Linked DNA regions of Homo sapiens. The protein of the gene in region 5 interacts with the protein of the main gene of each other region in a pairwise test. Each region holds a gene or a part of one and is shown on either strand. Other genes may lie near its edges.

Region 1 (4,281 bases), on a different chromosome or scaffold from region 5:
CCAGAATGGCAGCAGGAAAAGCAGAAGAGTCAGGGATGGTCACAGAAGCCAAGGGAAGACAGTGTTTGTAGAGTGAAATGGGGGCAGCAGTTTCAGATGCCGCTGAGAGATTGAGCAAGACAAAGCCTGAAAAAGTCTCATTCCTGGTTTTTGTTTTAGCAGAGATGAAGAGGGAAGCCATACTGGCTGAGGAGTGAGAGACAAATAATAGAGGCATTGAATATGGCAGTTCTTTAAAGTTTGCCTGTCGAAAGGGATAAGGGATTGGACAATAACTGGAAACTGAAGGGGAACGTGGGGTCAAAGAAGATTCTTTTTTTCTCTTTTGTGATGGGAGACTTGAACATGCTTCAAAACCATGGCAAAGAGCCAGCTGAGATGGAACAGGTGATCATACAGGAGAGGGAATGTATACCTGACAGGGTAGAGTTTTTGGCGAGTGGAAAGCGATGGGATCCAAAGCACGGAGAGGGAGTGGCCTTGGTTAGGAGGAGGAAGGAAGGTAGGAACAGATATAAGTAAGGCTTGCAGTTTTGGGAGCTGAAGAATGAGGGGATTCCCATGTGACAGCTTCAAGCTTCTCTATGAAGTGACAGCACAAGGGCGTGGTGGGAGATCAAATCTGAGGAAAATGGTCATTTATGAAATGCAATCTCCTACAGACCCTCAGCTAACCGTGGCAATCCTACTCTGTTACTTTGGTTAATTGGGGTTTTACCTGATGGCAAAAGAGAAAAGATGGGGCTAGGAGTTTAAGAGAGTGGCAAGGGTAGGGCCGGGCGCAGTGGCTCACGCCTTTAATCCCAGCACTTTGGAAGGCCGAGGCAGGCAGATTACCTGAGGTCAGGAGTTTGAGACCAGCCTGGCCAACATGGTGAAACCCCATCTCTACTAAAAATACAAAAATTAGCTGGGCATGGTGGCGTACACCTGTAATCCCAGCTACTCAGGCCGAGGCAGGAGAATTGCTTGAGCCCAGAGATGGAGGTTGCAGTGAGCCGAGATCTTGCCACTGCACTCCAGCCTGGCCGACAGAGTAAGGCTCTGTCTTAAAAAAAAAAAAAACAACAAAAAAAGAGAGATTGGCTAGGGGCCTTAGCTCCTTGAGGGCAGGGACCTGTCACATTGATCGCGGTATCAGCACCCAGGTACTTACTATTCAAAATGATCAGCATACGGATGATCATTTGTCTGCATCTCAGTTTGCCTCTTTTGGTGCTTCTCTAAAAAATAAAAAAGGAAGAGCTTAAACTCCTACATGATTCCTGTCTTTGCGCTGGGAAGAAGGCTCTGGGTTCTTTTGTTCTTCAGGACAGTCCCTTGTAAAGCTCTTGCCATAGTTCTGTTCCAGGGGCACTGTCATATTTATACCTAACAAAGCTAAGGGGTGTCTTTACATTTTTAGCTTGTTAGCAGGATGCTTATATGGCCTTGCTGACCCGGTTTAAAAGTTGCAATTTGCAAAATACATACTGAAAATACTGCACTTTTACCTATGGAAGTTGTAATTTATATAAGGAAATTGTAATTTATATAATCCTTTAAAAAACTTACTCATACGAAATAACAGAGAACGGGGAAATACCATTAAGACTGTCATGCTCAAGTGGGGGAGGGGCAGACTCAGGGAAACCAATTAGGAAGCAAGTAAAATAATCCACGCACCAGATGATGGGGGCCTGGACCAAGGTGGTGACAGTGGCGGTTGAGAGAAATGGTAGAATTGTGAATCTATTCTGGGTGCATTTTGAAGGCAGTGCTGACAGACTGAAGGTGAGGAAGAGAAAAACAGGACTCAAACAGGATGCAAGACTCGGGCAACTGGAGGATGGAATTTCCAGCAACTATGATGGATTAAGATTGTGGGAGGACAGGCTTGGCTTGGGGAATTATTGAGCGCTATCTTGGACGAGCTGTGTTTGAGATGCCGTAGACATCCAAGTAGGGATGTGGCAGGCAGCTAAATGCAGGGATCTGGTGTTCAGGGGAGGGGCGAGGGCTGGGAATGCACACTTGGGGCTCACTGGAATTCAGATAGGCTCTGAGTACAGGCGACTGGATGAGTTCATCTAGGGATTGAGTGTAGACAGAAAAAAGGCTCAAGCTCACATTCAGCCGTGAAAACTGGTCTCTGAAAAAAGTTAACCGTTGGCTTAAGTGTGGCAACGAAACGTTAACACGCTGAGGGGAGGGTGTGGATAAAGAGCCCCGAGGCTGGGTGAGTGGGGGACAAACACAGACAGAGAAGACATTTCAAAAGATTTAGATTCCTACGAGATAGGGAGATGCCAGCGCTAAGGTTAGAAAGAAAAACTAATCCAAAGCAAAACAGCAAGTAAGCAGAGGCAAAATCGGAGGTCAGATAGAAGATTCAGATAGAAAAACCCCAAAGTTCCCTCGGTGGGGCGGCGGTGAGATCGGCCTCCGCCCCCTCGCCAGACCCAGGCGCGGCCCCGGGAGCGCTAGGTCACCTCGGCCCAGGCCGTCCCCCTGCCCAGCGGGCCTGAGAGTACGTGTGTCGCCGGGGCGCCCGGTCACTGCCGAGCCGGGGTAGCTGTTCCTTGGCAAACTGTGCCGCGAGGAGGAAACGGCGGGGCGCCAGCGAGGCAGGCAGGGGCGAGGACTGAGTGACCGGCGATACTGGAAGCCCAGAAAGAGCGTAGCAGGAGGGTCCGGAAGGGCCCAGAGCTGGGGCTGTAACAGGGTAACCGGCTGAGGGGGACGACGGCAGCAGCGGGGCCGTTACCTGCTCCGCGCTGTTCCCACGACTGCGCCAACGCCGCAGCGCCGGCGCGTCCCCATGGAAACCCGCGCGCGGGGCCTCCTGGGAAGCGCCGGCCTGCGGGGGCTGGGCGCGCGCATGCGCACTCGGGCAGCAGGAGCCGCGGCGGGGAGGGGCGTCTTGGGCCTGGAGGTCAGTGTGGCCTCGCGTTTGTCTTCGGTGACGGGAAGTGAGTTTCTTGTGTAGACGTCTGTAAACGATCCTCCTGCCGTCCCTGTTCGGCGCCCGGGACCCTGCCTTCCCGCGTGGCCGCACCGAGACGAGGGAGCCTGTCACGCGCTCTGGCGCTCTCCTGACCTCTTAAGGCTCTGTCAGTCTTAGGTAACTTGAGTCAGTAGGTGGGTGTAGACGCCTGGTCAATTCCTGGGAAGCACAGTTCCCCTATTAACCCCTTGTCATAAAGACGATTTTTTTTTTTTTTTTGTAAAACAAAATCTGATGACAAAACAATGCATGTTTGGCATAGAGAATTTAGAAATGTACAGGCAAGTCCAAAGCAAAAGTCAAAATCACCTAGATGATGGAGTTATAGATGTTTTTTAATGACAGCATAGGAATTTGGCATAATTTAGGAAGACTTACATTGTTTCCTTTTATTTATTTACTTTTTTTCCTGCATCAAAGCCATGTTGAATATCCTTGCAGATGAATCTTTGAGGTCACCCCTGACTGTTTCCTTAGGATAAATTCCTACAAGCGAGGTTGCAGGGCCAAAGCATATGCTCACTTTGAGGCTTTCTAAAGGTAGAGGGAAACTGCCTTCCAGTAAGTGTCCCGATACTTGGCCCGCATTGGAAATTCTCTTTTTTCTTAAAATTTTTTTGCCCATTTTATTGTCAAAAATTGGCATCTTTAATTGTATTCACTTCCTTTTTAGTAGGAAGAATAGACTTTTTCCCATATCTTGAGTGCCATTTGTCCTTATTGTGTGATTTGCATTTTCCTGTCTTTTGTCCATTTTAAAACTTGACATTCATCTTTGTAAAAATGGGTTTTGTAAGGACTTTTGATGCTTGAAAACTTGGCTTGTGATATACGTTGCAAATATTTCCTCAATTTGTCAGTTACCTTTAATTTTGTTTACAGTGTATTTTGGTATTTGTGTAGAGTCAAGCTTATTACATTTCTCTATAGTTTCTGCATTTGGTTTTTATATAAAAGGAGAAACGGGTGTTTTTTTTCAAATTGACTTTAATCCTACTTTGGTAGAAGTGGGTTAGGACAAGCTTTCTCTCCATATCACCATTTCTTCCTCTAGAAATGCATGACCCACCCTGAGTTTTGGTGGGCCATGCATTTCTAGAACTCCTTAGGTAGGGAATTATCCGTATAAGATGGGTGCCGGTTGTTTTTGCTGGTGGTGGTGGGCGGGGCAACATCTCCAGGTAGGCAAACATTAGACAAATGTCACTCTAGACTTGACATTATGGAAAGATGGGCTGATGCTTGGTGGGTGGTGGTGGCCCCATGACAGTAACGAGAGCGGAGTTTTGCCATTG
Region 2 (3,500 bases), on a different chromosome or scaffold from region 5:
AAGGAGGAAACTTTTTTCCCTGCAAATGTATCTCTGAAATAATGATGGAAGTCACTGGAAGTGAGATCTTGCTGTAAAAGGTGTGCTTTGCTCCAGCTTTTCAGAAATATCTCTAAAATATAAAGCAACGTCAAATCAGGCCTACAAAGACATGGTGAGTCACCATCAATCAGAATTGGGAGAACAAGCTGAGAACCGCTCACACAACTGAATACCCTGGATAAAACATCTCTATCCTGAACCAGAAAATAAATGTCTACAGCTGCACTTGGCGGTTGGCCCTAGGGTCCATTCACCATATGGTCACCCTTATTATCATCCTCCCAACAAGTCCGGCAAGATAACAGGCTAAAACCACGCTCTTGCAACTGGCCTGCAGGCCAAGCAAACATCTCCTTATCATAACCTTGGTCTGTTCTTCCAAAGAGACTTCCTGCCCATCTCCTCTGTCCTTGCTTCTTGGTGTATATCTAATGCTCAACCTGGGCACGCCAAAAGCCCAGTCCTCTCGTGCCCGATGCCTAGAATTAAGCTGCTTTTCAGAGGGAAAGGGTATGTGTTAACAAAACAAAACAAAGAGGCCTCCTTCCTGGACCTTTATCTAAGGCAGGATCTAGCTGGTTTGGGATAAAACCTAGGGTTTTAGACTAGGGAAGAAACTTAAAGATTATCAAATGCAGTCATTTTTCAAAGCTTATTTTATTTTTAAGATGGAGTTTCACTCTTTGTCACCCAGGCTGGAGTACAATGGCACGATCTTGGCTCACCGCAACCTCCGCCTCCTGTGCCCAGTCCATTTTTCAAAGCTTTTTAAACATTACGAGGGCTGGGTGCAGTAGCTCATGCCTGTAATCCCAGCACTTTGGGAGGCTGAGGCAGGCGGATCACTTGAGCTCAGGAGTTCGAGACCAGCCTGGCCAACATGGTGAAACCCCATCTCTACTAAAAATACAAAAATTAGCCGGGCGTGGTGGCGCACGTCTGTAACCCCAGCTACTCAGGAGGCTGAGGCAGGAGAATAGCTTCAATCTGGGAGATGGAGGTTGCAGTGAGCCAAGATCATGCCACTGCACTGCAGCCTGGGCGTAAGACAGAGTGAGACTCTGTCGCAAATTTTAAAAACACTACAAAGTTGTATTTTTTCCAGTGAGGTTGTATGCAGAAACTCAGTAAATAGAAAATAGACATAAAACAAGCTGTTATGTCCATACAGTGGAATAGGAATATGGCCATCAAAAGAAATGAAGTCATGATAAATGCTACAACACAGGTGAACCTTGGAAACACTATAGTAAGTGCAAGAAGCTACTCACAAAGGAAGGCAAATTATATGATTCCATTAGTAGAAAATGTCCAGCAGAAGCAACTATAGAGACAGAAAATAGAGAAGTGCTTGTGTAGGGCTTGGGGAAATATGGGGATTGAGAGGTGATGGCTAAGAGGTACAAGGTTTTGTCTGGGTGTGGTGGCTCACATCTGTAATTCCAGCACTTTGGGAGGCCAAGGCAGGCGGATCACAAGGTCAAGAGATCGAGACCATCCTGCCCACCATGGTGAAACCCTGTCTGTACTAAAAATATGAAAATTAGCTGGGCATGGTGGTGGGCACCTGTAGGCCCAGCTACTTGGGAGGCTGAGGCAGGAGAATTGCTTAAACCCGGGAAGCGGAGGTTGCAGTGAGCAGAGATTGTGCCACTGCACTCCAGCCTGGTGACAGAGCGAGACTCCGTCAAAAAAAAAAAAAAAAAAAAAAAAAAAAGGAAGTGCAAGGTTTCTTTTTGGAGCAATGAAAATGTTCTAAAATCGACTGTGGTATGCGTTGCACAAATCTCTGAATCTAGCCTGGCCTGGCTGACCTGGCAGAACCCCTACATACTCCTCTCCTGGATATGCCCACCAATCACCTGGATATTGAGACCATCGATATCCTGGAAGACACCATCAATGAGTTTGAGGGTGGTATGAAGCTAGTCAGCTATGACTCTGGACTCATTCAGCAAGTGAGGTCCTGGCCAGGTGTGAGGTACAGCAGAGAGTGTCTAGGTGGTTGGGTGGAGCAGTCATGGCATATGAAGGGGCGTAGTACTTGCTTACTGAATTAAGAAAAGAGGCTCAGAGTGTAGACACAGGTGGCAAGGACCAGATCTTACGGCTCTACTTATGGGGCTACTTTGAAAGTGTTAAATGAAACACTTCATTTCTTCAGTAGCTACTTGGAGATGTTAACCAACTTGGGATTGTTGAGCCAAATGGGGCAGAGAGTTGGGTAGAAAACAGGGTGCTTTTGCTACTGGTCCCAGGATTCTTCAATCCAAAAACAGGATTCTACTAAGAAGGGCGTGGACTAGACAGGGGACTGCCACTGTCACTGGAGAATAAGCTGCAGGTCATTTCTCTGAAGCTTTGGAGAAGATGGAAATGGAGGGGGGGGGAAGGAGGCTGAGAGTGAAGCCTCTGAACAGATCTGGACAATGGGAACGTCCAGACAGAAGGAAGTGACAATGGGAATGACACAGTAGCTCCAGCTTAGAAGGCTCCAAAGCTTGCGGGTTATCGTGTCCTTGGGATAGACCATCCCAAAAAACTTAGAGGTAGTGAGGCAGTGTGCAGGATATGGGCTTGTGGGGTAGGGCAGGAAGATAATGCCATTTTCTTCCTTAGAATCCCCTTCCATCAGTCTGCTGGGCAAGAATGGGGACAGTGACTGGGCCAGGATTAAGTCTAGGATTTGTTTTCCAGGTTGCCTAGGAAATGTGTGTCTGTGGGAAGCAGAGAATCAATGAATGGCCTGGAGACACCCTGGCCCACAGGGAACACCTCAAGTCCAAGCTGGTAGATGAGAATCCCCAGCTCACCAGAAGAACATACAACACATGAGCCCTCTGGTCTTGGGTTAGGACCTCCGTCTGGAGACCAACAACTGCTACCCATTGACCAGTCTCTCAGACAACGTAGAAAAGTGGTTGCCTAGGGCTTGCAGGGACAGGGGGATTGGGAGGTGATGGCTAAGAGATGTGGAATTCCTTTTTGGAGTGATGAAGGTGTTCTTTTATTTTCCTTCAACTTTTATTTTAAGTTCTGGGGTCCATGTGCAGGATGTGCAGGTTTGTTAGATAGGTAAACATGTGCCATGGTGGTTTGCTGCACAGATCAACCCATCACCTTGGTATTAAGCCCAGCACCCATTAGCTATTCTTCCCAATGCTCTCCCTCCCCACCCCCAACAGGCCCCAGTGTGTTGTTCCCCACTATGTGTTTATGTGTTCTCATCATTTAACTCCCACTTATAAGTGAGAAAAAGCACAGGTATCTTGGAACCCAAAATAATACACAATTTAGGCCGGGCGCGCTGGCTCACACCCGTAATCCCAGCACTTTGGGAGGCCGAGGTGGGCAGATCACGAGATCAGGAGATTGAGACCATCCTGGCCAACATGGCGAAACTCCGTCTCTACTAAAAACACAAAAATTAGTCAGTTGTGGTGGTGCATGCCTCTAGT
Region 3 (3,500 bases), on a different chromosome or scaffold from region 5:
CCTGCCAGGCCTGCCCTTCCTTCCCTCCTCTCCGCTTCAATCCTCCTTCTCGCTCAGCCACGGCTCAGGACCTCCTCCCCGCAGAGCCCTTCCAGCCCCCTGCCCACTCTGTTCTCTGCCTCTCGGAACTCGGAGAAGAACACTCATTGTTAGCGGCACTGTTCAGGGCTGAGCCACTGCTGCTCTGTAATCTTGCTGGCGTTCCTCCTGAGCCCCAGCGCCTCTCCCATTATTCAGACTTTCAAGCACTCAGGAGGGAGGGCTGGGCTGATGGCTGGGGAGGGAGGTAATTGCTACTCTGGCAAGGTCTTTTGTCGAGTATTTGGGCCCTGGATCCAGAGCCAGGGAAGTTCAGCTGCATCTTCAACTCTCTGGTTGACCTTGGGAAGTACTTGACCTCTCTGACCTTCAGCTTCCCCATCCTTGACATTCAGAGGTTAATCTTTGAAGTAACTGCCTGTTCTGGAACATCAATGTTTCCATCTCTGATAGCAGTGGCACCGAGCGTTGTTGGTGCTTGCCCTGTGCTAAGCTCTCACATCCCCATGCCCATCCTATGAGGCAGGTCTTGTTATCACTCCCATTTTACAGATGAGGAAACCGAGGCACAGGAAGTTAAGCTATATGCCCAACATTACAAAATTAAGAAGTAATTGGACCGTGATTCAAATCTGGTGCTTTAAGATGCCTTCTTTCCTACCTACAACTATTTATTGAGTACATACTCTGTGCTGTGGGCCTGGGAGTCACTGATGATGGGTCTGACAGGGTCCCTGCCCTTGCAGGACATTTAGACTTGTGACAGATAATAAACAAGCAAACAAACACTAAATTAAGATCTAACCACAAAGTAGGGCAAATGTTCTGGAAGGTTTGTCCATGGACACAGCCAGGAGGCGGCGTGCTCGCAGACAAGTCATTTTATCTCTCTGAAGCTATATTCCATGCGTGAGGGAGGGATAAGAAGACTACTGACCTCAAACGGTTGATGTATGGATTGAGTAACTTTGGCTTGGCATGGTGGCTCACGCCTGTAATCTCAGCACTGTGGGAGGTCGAGGCGGGCGGATCACCTGAGGTCAGGAGTTCGAGACCAGCCTGTCCAACATGGTGAAACCCCGTCTCTACTAAAAATACAAAAAATTAGCCAGGCATGGTGGTGGGTGCCTGTAATCCCAGCTACTTGGGAGGCTGAGGCAGGAGAATTGCATGAACCTGGGAGGCGGAGGTTGCAGTGAGCTGAGATCACGCCATTGCACTCCAGCCTGGGTGACAGAGACAGACTTTCTTTCTCTCTCAAAAAAAAAAAAAAAAAAAAAAAAAAAGGATTGAGTGGCTTTGCCTGTGTAAAGCACTCAGCGCATAGGGATTACTCAATATACAGGGTTGGTTATTGTTGTTATGACAACTAGATCCAGAGAAGAGGCCAGGATGGTCCCTCGCCCACCCTGTCCTCTGGATGTCTTCACATGGGCATTGGGTTAGCCCTGGGAGAGAGGGCTATGGAGGACTGACCTTTATGTATCTCCTTCTATGCCCCTTTTGCCCCCTACACCCTGCCCAGGCTGTTTCATGTTTCTGGGCCTTTGTTCCAACTGAAACTCCTGCCAAAAAGGCCCTTTCTCCCCTTAACCTCCTGGAAAACTCCTACTCATCCTTCAAAACCCCATTCAGACCTCACCGCCTCTGAGAAGCCATCTTGGACATGCTGATTCCCTTACTCCTGCCCTCAGAAAGGGGTGCTGCTGCCTTAGCCTTAGCATCCTGTGCCATCGTCTCCTGACTGCTCTCCTAAGAACTGTGTCTCAAGGCAGCTCTGTCAGACAAGCACCCAGCAGCAATGAAGTCAGTGCTCAGTGAGGGCTCATGAAGGGGTCTGGGCTGCCAGGGTCTGGGTACCTGGGGGAAACCTGAGGGGGTCTGTGAAATCTATGCCTGGCAATGCTGAAGGGGTCCCGGAGCCCTGGGTCCCACTCCCCTCCTGGCACCTGTGGACTGGAAGACGCCTGGGTTGCAGAGGCAGTATCGAGTGGCAAAGGCCTCCATCATCCGGTCTATCTTCTGGGCCTCGCCCGGCAGCCGGAAGCTCCACAGGAACTGCCTGGGGGAGAAACGGGGCCACGGGCAGTGGAGTGGGTGGGCCCTCGCGGGCCCCAGACAAGCTGCCCTGCCTCTCCCAGGTTTAGTCTCTGTATCCTGTAAATGGGGGAATCTGCAACTGTCATCTGGGCTGACGGGGAAGTGGGATGGGCACCAGGGAGCCCCAAGCACGCGGGAGGTAGCCAAGAAATGCCTTTTCTTGCAGAATACGGAACTAAGCACACGCCCCGCTCTGCAGGTCTGAATCCCAGCACTGACTGCAGCCCAGTCTGCCTCAGCTGGGAAGGGGGACGGCCTCTGCCTGCCCCGGGGTCTGTGGCTCCCCGCACCTGGCCTTTGGGCCCTGAGATCTGGCTGTGGGACCTAGTTGGGGAAGAGGTGGGGCAGGGGTTTTGCCTTGCTAGGGCTCCCTTTCTTGGAACCTCGACTTCCCTCTAGCTCTGGAAGTTGGTGGTTTCGACAGCTTCAAGCTAAGTTCTCTGAAGGTGAGAACTGGGCCTGTATCTCTCACTTCTCCTCCTGGGCTTCACACAGTCCTGGGCACCTAGCAAAGGCTCAGTAAATAAGTGAATGAATGAATGAATATGTGAATGAATGAATGAAAGAATGAATATGGGAGACTCCCAAGTCACCTACCCCTCTCCCTTAAAGAGCTGGGAGTTAGAGAACACTGGATGGTGGTGGCTTCTTCCTTCTCTGTATTGTGAACTCCTACTCACCCTCCAAAGCCCAGATCAGATGCTCCTTCTCGGAATCTGAGTTTTCAAGCAGCATCAAGACTTACTAAGCACTCACTGTGGACCAGTTTTAAACACTTTCCCATTTAGTCTTCACAACCCTGTGAAGTTGGTACTATTATTATCCCCATTCTACGGATGAGGAAACTGGGGCACAGGAAGGTTTATTTATTTTTTTGTGAGACAGAGCCTCACTCTGTTGCCCAGGCTGGAGTGCAGTGGTGTGATCTTGTCTCACTACAACCTCCACCTCCCAGGTCCAGGTGATTCTCCTGCCTCAGCCTCCCGAGTAGCTGGGATTACAGGCGCCCGCCACCACGCCCGGCTAATTTTTGTATTTTGTGCATGTGTATGGCTTGCTTAAGGTCACACGGGGGTGAGCAGCAGAGCTGGGATTTGAACTGTATAGTCTGGCTCCAGAGTTTGTGCTTCAAACTGATAATTGGACTGCCTCTGCAGTTGTAAAAATGAGTACCAAAAACAGTACCCTAATTAGAAGCTAATAAGTCATAATAATTGGAATACATGCTAAGCAGTCTTATAAAATAAATAAAACATGCACTAATCCAAAAAGTAGGAGAATGACCATAATAAAGTAATAATGATTAGAATGATTAAATATGGGCATGATAGAATTCTAACTAAGAAGGCAGTATTTGCTAT
Region 4 (3,465 bases), on a different chromosome or scaffold from region 5:
GTTTGGCATCCATATACTAACCAGAGCTGGCCAATCCCCCAAACCACAAGAATGTTGAAAAATGACAAGCTGTATGGCCACCCCGCCTTGGCCAGCAAACATGCCCCTCGTCCCACCTACCACCCCGTAGTTTTTGTATCCTGATCATTGTCCAGTAAAACCACAATCCCACTGTGCTCGAGGAGTCTCTTTTCCAGACTCCCTACTGCAGTAGCTTTGAAAAAGTGTTTCCTTCAACTCTAACTAATCTGTTTCTGCTTTGACCATTTGGTTTCTGGGCTAGGCCATTTCACTGGATCATCTGGAAAACAATGTCTGGGGATGCCCACCAGAAGAGTGTCTTCTCCTGGAGTTTGGAGGTAGTTGAGTATGGAGGAGGGAATGGGAGGGTGGATCTCACCATATCGTCCTTCTATTGCCATCCACTAATTATTCCAATGTTCACTAACTCTGCAGGGCTCCTGCAGTGGGTTTAACCAAAAGACTTTCACACAACACCAGCAGATTGCAGTTATGTATTCAGTTTCCTACGTACTTCAACAACAGGGGCCATGGGAAGGAGAGGAGAAACATTGGGAGAGCTGCCTGGCTGGAGTAACTGACTTCTATTAAGTAATGGGTTCCTATGCGCACTTTACAAAATCATCTTCCTACAGGAAAATCGGCTTCCACAGGGATAACACGGGTTGCAAGGATCATATGGGCTGCACGGGTTGCAGGGGCTGCAGGGGTTGCAGGGGCTGCAGGGGCTGCAGGGGCTGCAAGGAGAAGTGCAAGGGTAGCAAGGAGACTCGATCTTGACACAGCTGCCGAGCCCATAGGAGTATGTTACATCCTTCTCATCCACACAGGGCGGCAAGCTGAACTCTTTGCAGATGTTCATGTAGCTGTACTTTTTCGATCCAAGGCAGTCGTACCTGTTCTCCCGCTCAGCCGACACACATACCTTTCCATCCTTCACTCGAACTTTGACTTGATCGGGTTCAAAACCGCATACATTCACCGATCCTAAAATGTTACTGCTACAGCAGGAGGAAGCCAGAATTCTATTTGTTGTTCTTCTCAGTCTGGAATTGAGAAAAGGGATAGGGTGGGAGGGAGCTCAGACCTCAGAATCCAGACACAGCTTGAGAAGCAATATTTTGATTTCTAGCTTTTGAAATAGCCAAAGTTAATACTAGCCATTGTGAAAATAAACTTTACACAAATGCATGAAGTAAAAAGTGTGAGTCCACCCATGCGAATCACACTGCCCCGCAAGTACACAGCTGTTAACAATGAATGCGTGCTGCCTGCCCTTCCAAATCTTCTCTCGTATTGAAATACCAGCTCCTCCTCTTATTATTGATCCTTGTGTAGGTTCCTTAACCCTTCTGTACCTCAGTTTCCTCATCTGCAAAATGGAGATAATAATAATGATAACAATAATAATGCCTGCATCATATAGGGCTATTGGAGGATTAGATGAGATTATGATATTTTACTTAGCACTGTGCTTCGTACATTATAAATCCTGCTTAATTATTACCACTCTCATTATTATTACTGTAATTAAATTGTGTATATAACTATAATTAAATTATATAAAAATTATATTTTATATTTATATAGATTAAAAAATGGGATATAACTAAGATACCACTTAAAATCTGCATTTTAGAGATGGCTGTCAGCTTTCGAACCCAGCCCTACTGGTTCATGGGACAGGTGCTACCTCTTGCAATTGCACAGAGACAGCCTGAAAGCTCAATCAAACAATGATGGCAGGAGAGCCCTGGCCTGGCTCTGCCCAGGCTGGTGTTGTGTGAAAGTCTTTTGCCCAGCGCCTGGCTCCTCCAGGCTGGGAAGTCACTCTAGCCTCTGGACAGCTAGCACTAGCAGAAAGGCAGTCAGCTGGGTGGGGCCGTGTTGATCAGATACAGAACAACCTCTCAGTGGTGTCCATAATCAGGATCACATCAGCTAGCAAGAGCTGATCGTGTACATCTCTTCCCGATCCCCAGTTAGTACTGCACGCTGATAGCTTGAAATCAATCATAGTCATGATGAGGATATTTACACCATGGAAATTGGAAAATGCTACATATTAGGGCTCTCCTCTGTCCTCACTGCAGAGCTACTGTGGTTCCTACCTTGTTGCTATTCACTAATTCTATTGTGTAAATCCTTAATAAAAATAACAACAGCAGCTCACACTAATTGATCAGTTATGATCCGTCAAGAGGTAGTAAAGCAAAGTGCCTAAGAACAGACTCTGGAACTGGAGTATCGAGGTTTAAAGCTTGGCTCTAACATGTGGATAACTTACTTCTCGGTGCCTCAGTTTCCTCATCTGTAAAACTGGGACAATAAAAATAGCCTACATCATAGGGTTGTTGTGAGGCTTAAATCAGTTAATGCAAGAAAATATTTACAATAATACTTGGCACATAGGATGTTAAGGTTTTGTCTTTTCTTTTTTTTTTTTTTGCAATGTGCTGTGGAAGGTGCTAAGCATGTTAAAGGCATATTTCATTTAATCTTTACAATAATAACTGTGATGCAGATGTAATTATCACTATATCACTTTTGTATGTTGAATTTTGTTTATGCAGTTACTTCTTTTTGTTACATAAGTTATACAAGTTCATTGTAGAAGACTCAAAATACAGATAAGTAAACATATGGACTATTTTAAAAATACCTATAATCTCATATAACCCTTAGCATTTTGGTGTTTGACTTTATGTGAGTGTGTGTGTGAGTATGTGTCTGTGTGTGTGTGTGTGTGTGTAGTTCTATATACATGTAGAGAGAGAGTTTTGTATGTGTTCTTATGAAATCATGCTATACGTACTGATTTTTATCTGTATTTTCCACTTAAGCCCTAACATGATTAGATAACAGTTTGAGTGCTCACTACCCTTGTACTGAAAGTTACAGATCAAGACTCTTAGTGGCTAATTATAAAATGATCAAACAGAACTCAGTCCCAGAAGACACTGAGGCAAACAGAAACAACTTGTGTAATACACCCAGAGGACTGTATTCAGTCCCATTTCTTTTTTTTCTTTTTTCTTTTTTTTGAGACGGGGTCTCGCTCTGTTGCCCAGGCTGGAGTGCAGTGAGGCGATCTCTGCTCACTGCAAGCTCCGCCTCCCAGGTTCATGCCATTCTCCTGCCTCAGCCTCCTGAGTAGCTGGGAGTACAGGTGCCCGCCACCATGCTCGGCTAATTATTTTTTGTATTTTTAGTAGAGAAGGTGTTTCACCGTGTTAGCCAGGATGGTCTCGATCTCCTGACCTTGTGATCCGCCCACTTCAGCCTCCCAAAGTGCTGGGATTACAGGCGTGAGCCACCGCGCCCGGCCTCAGCCCCATTTCTACCTCTGGCCCCATGAAACCTGGGGGTGGCATGGGGCATGATTGTCTTTCTTGCCCTGGGTGTGCCAGGGTACCCTATGCCACACTAACAAGAAGTAGGAGA
Region 5 (2,154 bases):
CTCGCTTCTCTACCTCGCTTCTCCGCTCAGATACCACTTCCTAGGTGAGGCCGTCGCTGACCGCGCTGTTTAAAATCCAGTGCTTAGAACAGTGCCTGGTACCCAGCAGGCAATCGGCAAATGCCTGCTTAGTCAGTACATGCTCAGTCAATGGCCGCAGCCTGCTGCTGGGTGCCTTTGGATTTGGGTCCCAAATGCCGGCCTCCAGAGTGGCGGACACATTTAACAGATCTGAGGTTGCCTGGGGGATGTGACCCCAGAGAAGGACCAGTAGGGCGAAGGCCCCGAGGGGACACGTGTTTTGGAATGTTTGAGACGGGTGGAGAGGCAGCCTTGGCTAGAACCCAATTTGTGAGGGGAGCTCAGATGGGCGGGCATGTCCCAGAGCCAGCGCGAGTCTGCGGGTCTTGCAGAGACTCTGGGTTTCCTGAGACCACCGGAGACGCACAGGCCCCGAGGACCGGAATGGGTTAACACCTGCCCTCCGGCCCCTGTTGACAACATAGATGGTTTGGGAACTCGAGATGAGGCCGTGGGGCGGGGGATACTGACACCCACTTACTCTCTCTGAGTTCAGGAGCATTTACCCAGCCTCTGTACGGCGCCCGGGGCTCGACTGGTGGGAGGGGTCCGGCAGAGGCCCCGCCTCGAGATCCCAGCACGCCCCGCCCCGCTCCACGGTGTAGCACAGACTCCGCGGAGAACGCGAGCATGGTCGGAAATCATCGCCTTTATTTCTTGGCGGGTCTCGAGGGAAGGTCGGGAACGGGCGGGTCCTGCTGGCCTAGAGGGCGTCAGGGGCAGCCACCGGCGGCTCGGGATCCTCCTCGTCGCGAGCGCGGGGGAGCTCAGGTCCGGCCTGCCGGGGGCTGGGTGAGGCTGCGGACCAGGTTCCTACGCTCCTCGCGTCCGCCCGCGTCTGCCCTAGGCCTCCACCGCGGCTTCCTCTGTCCCCGGGGCCGCCCTGCTCCCCACAGACCCCACTCTCGGGGGCCGCTCCCAGGACCCCCGCCCGCTCTCTCCTGACTCGGTCCCTGCCCGCCCCGCCTCCCTTCCTCGGGCTCCCTACCTCTCCCTCGCCGGCCCCGACCTCGGGGGCGCTCCGGACCTGCTCCCCGAATATCTCCAGCTCCGCCTTCAGCCTGCGGAGAAGGGGCCGAGGAGACAGGAGGAAGAGAGCGAGAGTCCAGGGGACGAGGAGGAAGCCACCGAGACGCGGAGACCCGACGACGCCGAGGGAGGCACAGGCCGGGGAAGCGGCAGTCGGGGGCGGAGCGGGGGACCTGGGCGGGTTCCCCTCCGCCCTGCCCCTGCCCTCCTCGCCCACTCCTCCCTTCCCCTCTCACCCGTCATTCACCGCCATGGCGCCCTCGACCTCAGGCGGCGAGTGCAGCCGCCGCTCCACCTCCCGCAGCTTGGCGCGCACCAGCCTCCCTGTCGGTGGGCGGGCGTCAGGGGCAGGGCCGAGGCCCGGGCACATCCCCCTCCCCCCGCCCACCTGGCGCGGGAGGCTCACTCTCCGAGAGCAGCTGCTCCTTGCTTCTCTCCAGGGCACGGATCTCCCGGGCCAGTCGCTGCTCCAGCATCTGCGAGGACAAAGAGGAGGCCTCCCCGTTTGGCCGTCCTCTTGGCTACACGGCCCGCCCCTCCCCTTTTGTGCTTCTCGCGAAGTCTTCACCTACATTAGGTCATTCATTCATTCAACTATTTATTAACTCAATGTGCAGTTCCTGCTGTGGCTGGAGACCCACCCACCTCCCCCTAAACGCTCTCCATGTCTCCAGGCACCTCTCAAACTTGAACTCTTCCCACTCTCCTCATCCTCCATTCCCCAATCTGCGGCTCCTCAACGGTTTCAGGCACCGTCCAGCCCCAGGGCCTTCCTTCTGCACCGATACCTGCACGGCTTCTTCCCTCACTTCCTTCACCTCTGCGTTGAGATGTCACTTGCTTAGAGGCCTTCCCACTGAAGTTCCACGATCTAGCCACTAACTTTCTTGGTGCCTCCACCGTCCCCAACCAGCTTGGGACAGCAAAGACGTGGACTCTTTGATCTGCTACCCTCCCTCCCTGCCTCAAATGCTGACCGGTGCAACCACTGACATTAGCTAAATGAAGGAATGACCTGACCATGGCTTTCCCTGGGCTGCCATT
Region 6 (3,241 bases), on a different chromosome or scaffold from region 5:
TATAAGCAAATTTATCAAGTTGACAAGAACCCTTGTGTTTTAAGTATGTTGACAAATGAAAAGTATATAAGGGGACCCCTCAGAAGAAAAGCATCACAACCACACCTTTCTGATACAGATTCCAAATGATAGGGCATCTTAAAACTAGTTTGAGTAATCCTTAAAATGCTACAACTAGTCCCATGGCAAAGCTGTATTATTTTCATGCAAACTAGTTAACAATTTGGAGTTAAGGCAGAACCAGCATTTGGGTGTTCATTTTGTTTCCAGGGTAATTTCTGTGAACAATGCCAAGGATTGCAGAATTGAACTTCATGTATTGGACAAATCTCAGCCTAGGTGTCTGTTAGTTTTTAAGCTATATATTGAATCTAGTGTATATATTGAATACACTAGATTTTTAGTGACTAATCTAGTAATACACTAGATTTTTGGTTTGACTCAAGCAAAATGAGTAAATGGAAGTGGGAGTGGAAGATTACCTAACTTCATACTTTAGGAAAGGTACTGATAAAAGTTTTGGTTAGCCTATATAGAGAATGGTGATAGGAATTTCCCAAGTCGATGCAATTGCGAGAACCAAAAATAGCTGGTACAGAGAACTTACCATGTAAGGCTGCTGAAGTCAGCCATACTGTGAACCTTAGGTAAATGCTGTAATTTCAATTTGTCTTCTTTTCGATGGCAGTTATACTATGATGGAATCCAGGTCCAAAACCTATCCTTAAGCTTAAAATAAATACTAATAAACTATCCTCTTCCCTAGAACTACAACACAGGAAAAAACCTGAAAGGTTTTGTGTAAGTTTCAGTTTCTAGTATTTTGGTTGCATTCTTGTAGGCAATTTGTAAAGCAAGAGGGACAGAGTGCATCTCTAAAACCTCTTACACAAATTAGGAAAAAGTTGTACCCAGGTGGTTACAAATCTAAGAGCAAAATCTTAAAAAAACCCAAGATTTATTTTTGGCTCCTAGACCAGTTTATTTCACTTTCCAGCATTCAAAGAAATGTGATCTGCAAAAAACTAGATACAAAGGCCTTTTACTTCTTTACAAACTACGGTTAGTTCTCAATGAATTTACATGCCTCACTTTTTATTCCAAGAAAAATCCCCATTATGCAATACAAGGGTGAAACAGCTGTTACAAATACACAGAAACATAATAAAGATAACCAACACTGTTAAGAGGAAGGGGAAGAGGAAAAAACCCAAGAGAAGGAAACTTTTCCACAGTGACTAGCAGAATGTCTTGTAGATAGCAATAACCGAAGACAAACAGGTTGCTCACTTCATCCTATTTATCAAGTCATCCTATCTAAAATGAGAATAGTTCATGCCTAGGATAGGCTAACTATAGGCTTTGCTAGTCCTCCTTCCTAATAGAATGCCCTCAGATTATTCCTGAGCTATCACTCAAGTCACAGATACTTCAGAATATAATCTTAGGTTTTGTAAACAGGAACATGGTCAAAATGCAATACAATGGAAAATCTCTACAAGAGAATGAGATTTGGAAAGCCATGCTTAGAGTCTCTGAGCCACACAACCATAAGATCTTCGAGTACGTTTAATCTCTCATCCAGGAACATTATCCATTTACCTTGTAAGGTTGTGAGAAATGAATAGCATAATATGCAAGAAGCTATCACATGATGGGTATTCTACAAAGGACAATTTTCTCATCTGTAAAATGGGAATAATACCCATTTCCCAGGAGTGTTTTTAGGATTAAATAGAAATATTTGAAAAGCACATGGTTCGGCACAGTAAGTGCTCAATAATATTGACAGCATTCAGTATAGAGAGAAACAACCACAGAAGAGATCCTAAAGCAATTCATTCAACAGATGCAAAAATTAAAGGGCCTTTTCTGATTTACCATAATTAAATATTTTAGAGAACTACCAACTGTTGTTATTGTAGTTATATATGTATTTACCTAATTTTTTTTAAACAAAACCCCAACTCAATATGCACCTTAATTCTCCCCCTTAAATGTCTTAACTTCAAAAGGAAATGGAGAAGGGAGGTAGAGGGCAAAAAAGTCTATAGCCTCTACATATTCTTTTAAAAATACATAGAACCTCTGTCCATAAGAACCCCTATGTTAATGAGTGTATAACGGTATACAACAAAATACTTTTTGTAATTAAATCTAGTCACTTTGACTCTAAGTAAATTCTAGATCCCATTATATCAATGTTACTATCTCCATGAAAATAAAGCTATAAAAACACTTCCCCATTGGATTAAACAACAAACATGGTAACAAAAGATGAAACAAGTGAAAAATTATGGGCTGTAACCTAGGATCTGACACTTGCTGTGTGATCTTGGGCAAGTTCAAACAAAATTTCTAAAATAAAATACAAACAATAATACCTCCATTTCACACCTCCCTTGAAAATATACCTCTGCTATATTTTCAAAATTGCTACAAATTAAAAGCTTAAATTCCACTTCCAGATTTTTAGTTAATTTTATATGGAAAATTTTAAGTATGTGGCAAAAAAGATGACAAAAATCAAATGTGATGAAATCAATGTATAGGTAAAGAAACATCATATCCTAATAAGAAACTAAGGAATCCAAAACATTTTGTGATACTATAAAAGTTATTTATTCGCTATACACAGAACATGTCCCCTATAAAATGTACATGTAAATCACTAAAAAGTATAATTTGGTGAACATTTTCTCAATTACAGAACATACTAAATCAGTTAGGATAACAGCTCTCTGTCTGCCTCAAAATAATCTAATTATAGCACCCAGTCTCCTTTATACCTAATGCAAAGTTAAATACTTATTTTGGGGGTTATATCCTAGCATGTGTTTGGTGAGGCAGAGTAAACAATTTATTATAACTCTAGTATATTACAGTCACTGCACAATAAACCAGTTTATTACAGATTAAATCATTTTTTCATTATTTATAATAATGTGATCAAATACTGGATACTTTTAAATGGCAGATAACCACACAATTACTTATCCTTGATCGTATATTGTGTTCTATAATTACATTGATACGAATGGTGTAAAATATTGTTATGAATAACACACCTCAAACAAAACAATGAGGCCATACTGTAATGATTCACTAGATTGTGCTCAGTAGACATTTACTGAATAAGGGAATTATCTATTTTTCTCAATTATCCAGTACAATGATTTGCCCACAGTAAGGGCTCAATAAATATTTGCTGAATATACTGACTAGGAAAGAGGTGAGAAGA
Region 7 (3,500 bases), on a different chromosome or scaffold from region 5:
GGAGGCAGTGATCTTGGGTTTTCTCTGTGGGCAAGAAGAGAGAGAGACAGGTGGTGAGGCAGAGGCTGCAGAACTGGAATTCTGGTCTAGGACAAGACAAGTGCCAGCCAGCGTTCTCTATCTTTATCCGGAATCCTCTGCTCACCCTACGGTGCCTTAAAAGCTCATCTTTGTTATTTAACCTCTGCAGTTCAGAGAAGGCTGCAGTCAGCTACCTTGACCTAGGGGCTGAAGCCTTAACTTCCCACTCTGATTCTGCTGCTGCTGAAATCTTGTAAGATACTATGAGGGCCACATGGCTTCTACAGGCACCTCCTTCCTCATCTGTAAATAAGGATATTAGGACCCCCCCCCTTACTTAGTTCACAGAGTTATTGCAGATGAAATGAGATCATGGATGTGCAAATCCTTTGAAAATCGTAAAAGCTATGTGTTTTCACACTCCAGGTAGTAATACAGCAATACCTTGATGATCCGTCATGCTGCATAAATAAGCTGTGAATTTCCCAAATAAATGAAACGTATCTATGTAGACCTCAAAACTTTTAAAAATGTTAACACCACCCATACAAATCTTTCTAAGATATAAAACCACTGTTTTATCTTCTTATCAAAAATCCTAAACATGTTCTTGCTTACTAGTCCTAGCCCTGTGACAGTGGTCCCTCAGGGTTGGCAAAGGTGAGTAGTAGGGCTGCTTGGTCCCCAACTAATGAGACTGTGATGCCTTTCGAGCACTAGAGTATCTTCTGGGCCATAGGCGGTCACTTCTCATTGCCAGCAGGAAGCATCCTACCTAGACTTAATGTGCTGTGAGCCGGCAGAGCATGGCTCTCAAATGTTATTCCAGGGTGTCAAGTAGAAGTGATTAGGCTTTGAGAGGGAAGTTCTCATGAGAGACAATGGATGAGTTTCAGCAAATGGAATGTGTAACTTCTATTCTGACTGTTCAGAGTGGTTGGTTTGTCTTTTCCTCTCCTAAAGATTTTTGTTACATTTCAGATAAGTGCAATTTCAAAAGAAAGAGCCTATGACTCTAAGCATTACTACCATGGTTTACACACTGTAATGTACACATGGCAAATGTTTGACTGCGATCTTATTTCCCCACCACTTGGTGAGCCGATGGCCACCTCATTTGACCATCAGTCAGTGAGGACTCACTTTAATACGAGCCTCAGCAAAACTTAAAAATTCATATGAATGTTGAAAAGTAACATGTTCAATTCTTACTGAGAATCTCTGTGCCAAATATCCCCTCCATCAATACTGCTAATTCTCACTGTTTCCATCCCTGGGCCCACATCCCTATCCCTGCCATCCCCATCCTTGGACTGTACATAGGCTGTGATCTCAGTAGCCTGGTAAGTCTGGAGTGTATAGAATGGCCAGTGTCAGGGTTTTCTAACACCTGAGGGATTTAAGGACATCTCTTTGCTCCTCAATCAATGTTCAGCCATTGGGCAAGGGTGGAATAACCCAATGACTATCCCTTACCCTTCCAATATAGCTTTGCACAGGATCAGCTCTGCATGGAATAGGATGGTCCCCCCAGGACTGGACCAGCTCTCAGAGTGGGTGAGGAAGAGCTTGTGCTCAGCAAGGATGCAGAGTCACACCCAACCCTGCTGCAATACCAGTCCTTCCAGTGACATGGTACACTGGCACAGCAACTCCCTGGACACTAGGAAGCCCCACATCCAGAATCTTCACCTGACGTTTCCATCTCCTGGGAATTTGTTCAGCCACTAAATACCCTACACCCCCTGGACTCCCACCAGGCCTTAACACAGGCTCTTCCCTCTCCTCAGATGCCAACCCCACCTTCCCACTTTTACCAGTCGTTAGAGTTAACCAAGACAGAGATACCCCAAATATCACTTACCTCGCTTCAGGCATCCATCACAGGAAGGACGGGGAAAGAGCAGAACACAGAGTGAGTATGAACAATGAGGATTACATGTGCAGTCGCAGAACCTCACAGACCAGCTTGGGGGAGGAGGGGGCCAGTGACAACAGTGAGCCAGAAAGTCATCAGGCATCAGGCAAGGGGAGCGGTTTGAGGTTCCGGCAGAATAAAATAAAAATTCAACAGCCCTTTGAACTACGGGGCATTCTTATTGGGAGGTACTGGGCATCGTAAGTTGGGGACAAGTGGTGGAAGGGGAGGGAAGCCTTAGCGTAGGGTTCCAGCAACGTGAAAGCATCCATCCACGGGTGCGTGGGTAAATTCCCAAAGCTTTGTTCACCTACTGCACCAGTGTTAAGTGGTGGCCTGGTACATGCAATTCATGTGATAGATCAAGACAGGAAATCTCTGAGGCACAAGCCAAAAAGGCACTCCCAGGGCAACCTGGGAGTGAGTTCTGCTCAATGGCTGGGAGGACACAGGCAGCACAGGGGAAACCATCAAGTGCTGCCCCTGTTTGAGGACCTGGTCTCTTAGGGAAAAGCTTTGGGGGTTGAAAACATGGTGCCTCCACTGCGGGGCTGAAGTCTGTGGCAAAGGGACTTGCCTTCCTGGGGCCCCAGATGGCAGTGAGACTACTTACACTTCCGGCATGGTGGCAGTGAGACAGCACCTAGGGGGCACAGAGGAATCATTCATAAGGGAAAGTGGAAACCCCTGCCCCTGCCCAGCTGGGCCTTGGGAGCCCAGCCTAGGAGACAGAGTCAGAACACAAAAGGAAGAAATCAGACACATTGGATTCCAGCAGGTCAAGATGGGACAGGGTTGCAGGGCAGGGGTCAGCTAACTACAGCCCATAAGCCTGACCTGGCTCCCAGCCTGTTTTTGCTTAAAGAATTGTAAGCTTTTTTTTTTTTTTTTTTTTTAAGAATTTGCAACAGAAACCTTATGTGAGCTACAAAGCTATCTGGCCCTTTCCAGATAAAGCTTGCCAATCCCAGTGGAGAACAGAATGGAGTCCATAGGAAATATGTTTGGAAAGTGAGAGCAGCTGGGCGCAGTGGCTCATGCCTGTAATCCCAGCACTTTGGGAGGCCAAGGCGGGCAGTTCATGAGGTAAGGAGTTCAAGACCAGCCTGGCCAATATGGTCAAACCCCGTCTCTACTAATGATACAAAAATTAGCCAGCATGGTGGTGCACGCCTATAGTCCCAGCTACTCAGGAGGCTGAGGCAGAAGAATTGCTTGAACCCAGGAGGCGGAGGTTACAGTGAGCCGAGATCGCACCACTGCACTCCAGCCTGGGTAACAGAATGAGTCTCCTTCTCAAAAAAAAAAAAAAAAAAATAAGTGAGAGTGTAGCTCACTCATGAGGGCCTTGAAGGACAGGCTGAGTTTAGACTTTATCCTGTGGAATAAGGGTGGTCATTGAAGGGCTCAGAGAGAGGAAGGCCTAGAAAGTGAATGAGCAGAGTGGATGCTGGAAAACGGGTAGCTGCCACATGGCACAACTCCATCCACAGATGGCAATGCAACTGGCACCTCCAGGGTGGGGCAGTGGGAGGCCTTGAGTGGGAGAGAATAAGCCGCA

The links.
Region 1: the proteins of SYCE1L (region 5) and LCA5L interact in a two-hybrid assay, tested with the Homo sapiens proteins (one large-scale study listed by BioGRID).
Region 2: the proteins of SYCE1L (region 5) and CALN1 interact in a two-hybrid assay, tested with the Homo sapiens proteins (one large-scale study listed by BioGRID).
Region 3: the proteins of SYCE1L (region 5) and CYTH4 interact in a two-hybrid assay, tested with the Homo sapiens proteins (one large-scale study listed by BioGRID).
Region 4: the proteins of SYCE1L (region 5) and ODF1 interact in a two-hybrid assay, tested with the Homo sapiens proteins (one large-scale study listed by BioGRID).
Region 6: the proteins of SYCE1L (region 5) and SRSF10 interact in a two-hybrid assay, tested with the Homo sapiens proteins (one large-scale study listed by BioGRID).
Region 7: the proteins of SYCE1L (region 5) and TNNI1 interact in a two-hybrid assay, tested with the Homo sapiens proteins (one large-scale study listed by BioGRID).

Annotation. Positions count from the first base shown.
Region 1 is NC_000021.9:39,442,979-39,447,259, forward strand, and holds the start of LCA5L (lebercilin-like protein), read right to left. Parts: upstream 2,801-4,281; 5' UTR 2,747-2,800; exon of another isoform or gene 2,472-2,746; intron 1,768-2,471; exon of another isoform or gene 1,666-1,767; intron 1,224-1,665; 5' UTR 1,157-1,223; intron 1-1,156.
Region 2 is NC_000007.14:72,101,339-72,104,838, forward strand, and holds part of CALN1 (calcium-binding protein 8), read right to left. Parts: intron 1-3,500. UniProt on the Homo sapiens protein: Negatively regulates Golgi-to-plasma membrane trafficking by interacting with PI4KB and inhibiting its activity. May play a role in the physiology of neurons and is potentially important in memory and learning.
Region 3 is NC_000022.11:37,299,508-37,303,007, reverse strand, and holds part of CYTH4 (cytohesin-4), read right to left. Parts: intron 2,102-3,500; coding exon 1,989-2,101; intron 1-1,988. UniProt on the Homo sapiens protein: Promotes guanine-nucleotide exchange on ARF1 and ARF5. Promotes the activation of ARF factors through replacement of GDP with GTP.
Region 4 is NC_000008.11:102,558,054-102,561,518, reverse strand, and holds the end of ODF1 (outer dense fiber protein 1), read right to left. Parts: intron 1,068-3,465; coding exon 635-1,067; 3' UTR 501-634; downstream 1-500.
Region 5 is NC_000016.10:77,211,562-77,213,715, reverse strand, and holds the end of SYCE1L (synaptonemal complex central element protein 1-like), read right to left. Parts: intron 2,130-2,154; exon of another isoform or gene 1,785-2,129; intron 1,688-1,784; exon of another isoform or gene 1,587-1,687; coding exon 1,517-1,586; intron 1,435-1,516; coding exon 1,347-1,434; intron 1,143-1,346; coding exon 1,070-1,142; intron 860-1,069; coding exon 785-859; 3' UTR 501-784; downstream 1-500. UniProt on the Homo sapiens protein: May be involved in meiosis.
Region 6 is NC_000001.11:23,963,847-23,967,087, forward strand, and holds the end of SRSF10 (serine/arginine-rich splicing factor 10), read right to left. Parts: 3' UTR 501-3,241; downstream 1-500. UniProt on the Homo sapiens protein: Splicing factor that in its dephosphorylated form acts as a general repressor of pre-mRNA splicing. Seems to interfere with the U1 snRNP 5'-splice recognition of SNRNP70. Required for splicing repression in M-phase cells and after heat shock.
Region 7 is NC_000001.11:201,415,231-201,418,730, forward strand, and holds part of TNNI1 (troponin I, slow skeletal muscle), read right to left. Parts: intron 2,583-3,500; 5' UTR 2,564-2,582; coding exon 2,553-2,563; intron 1,890-2,552; coding exon 1,886-1,889; intron 25-1,885; coding exon 1-24. UniProt on the Homo sapiens protein: Troponin I is the inhibitory subunit of troponin, the thin filament regulatory complex which confers calcium-sensitivity to striated muscle actomyosin ATPase activity.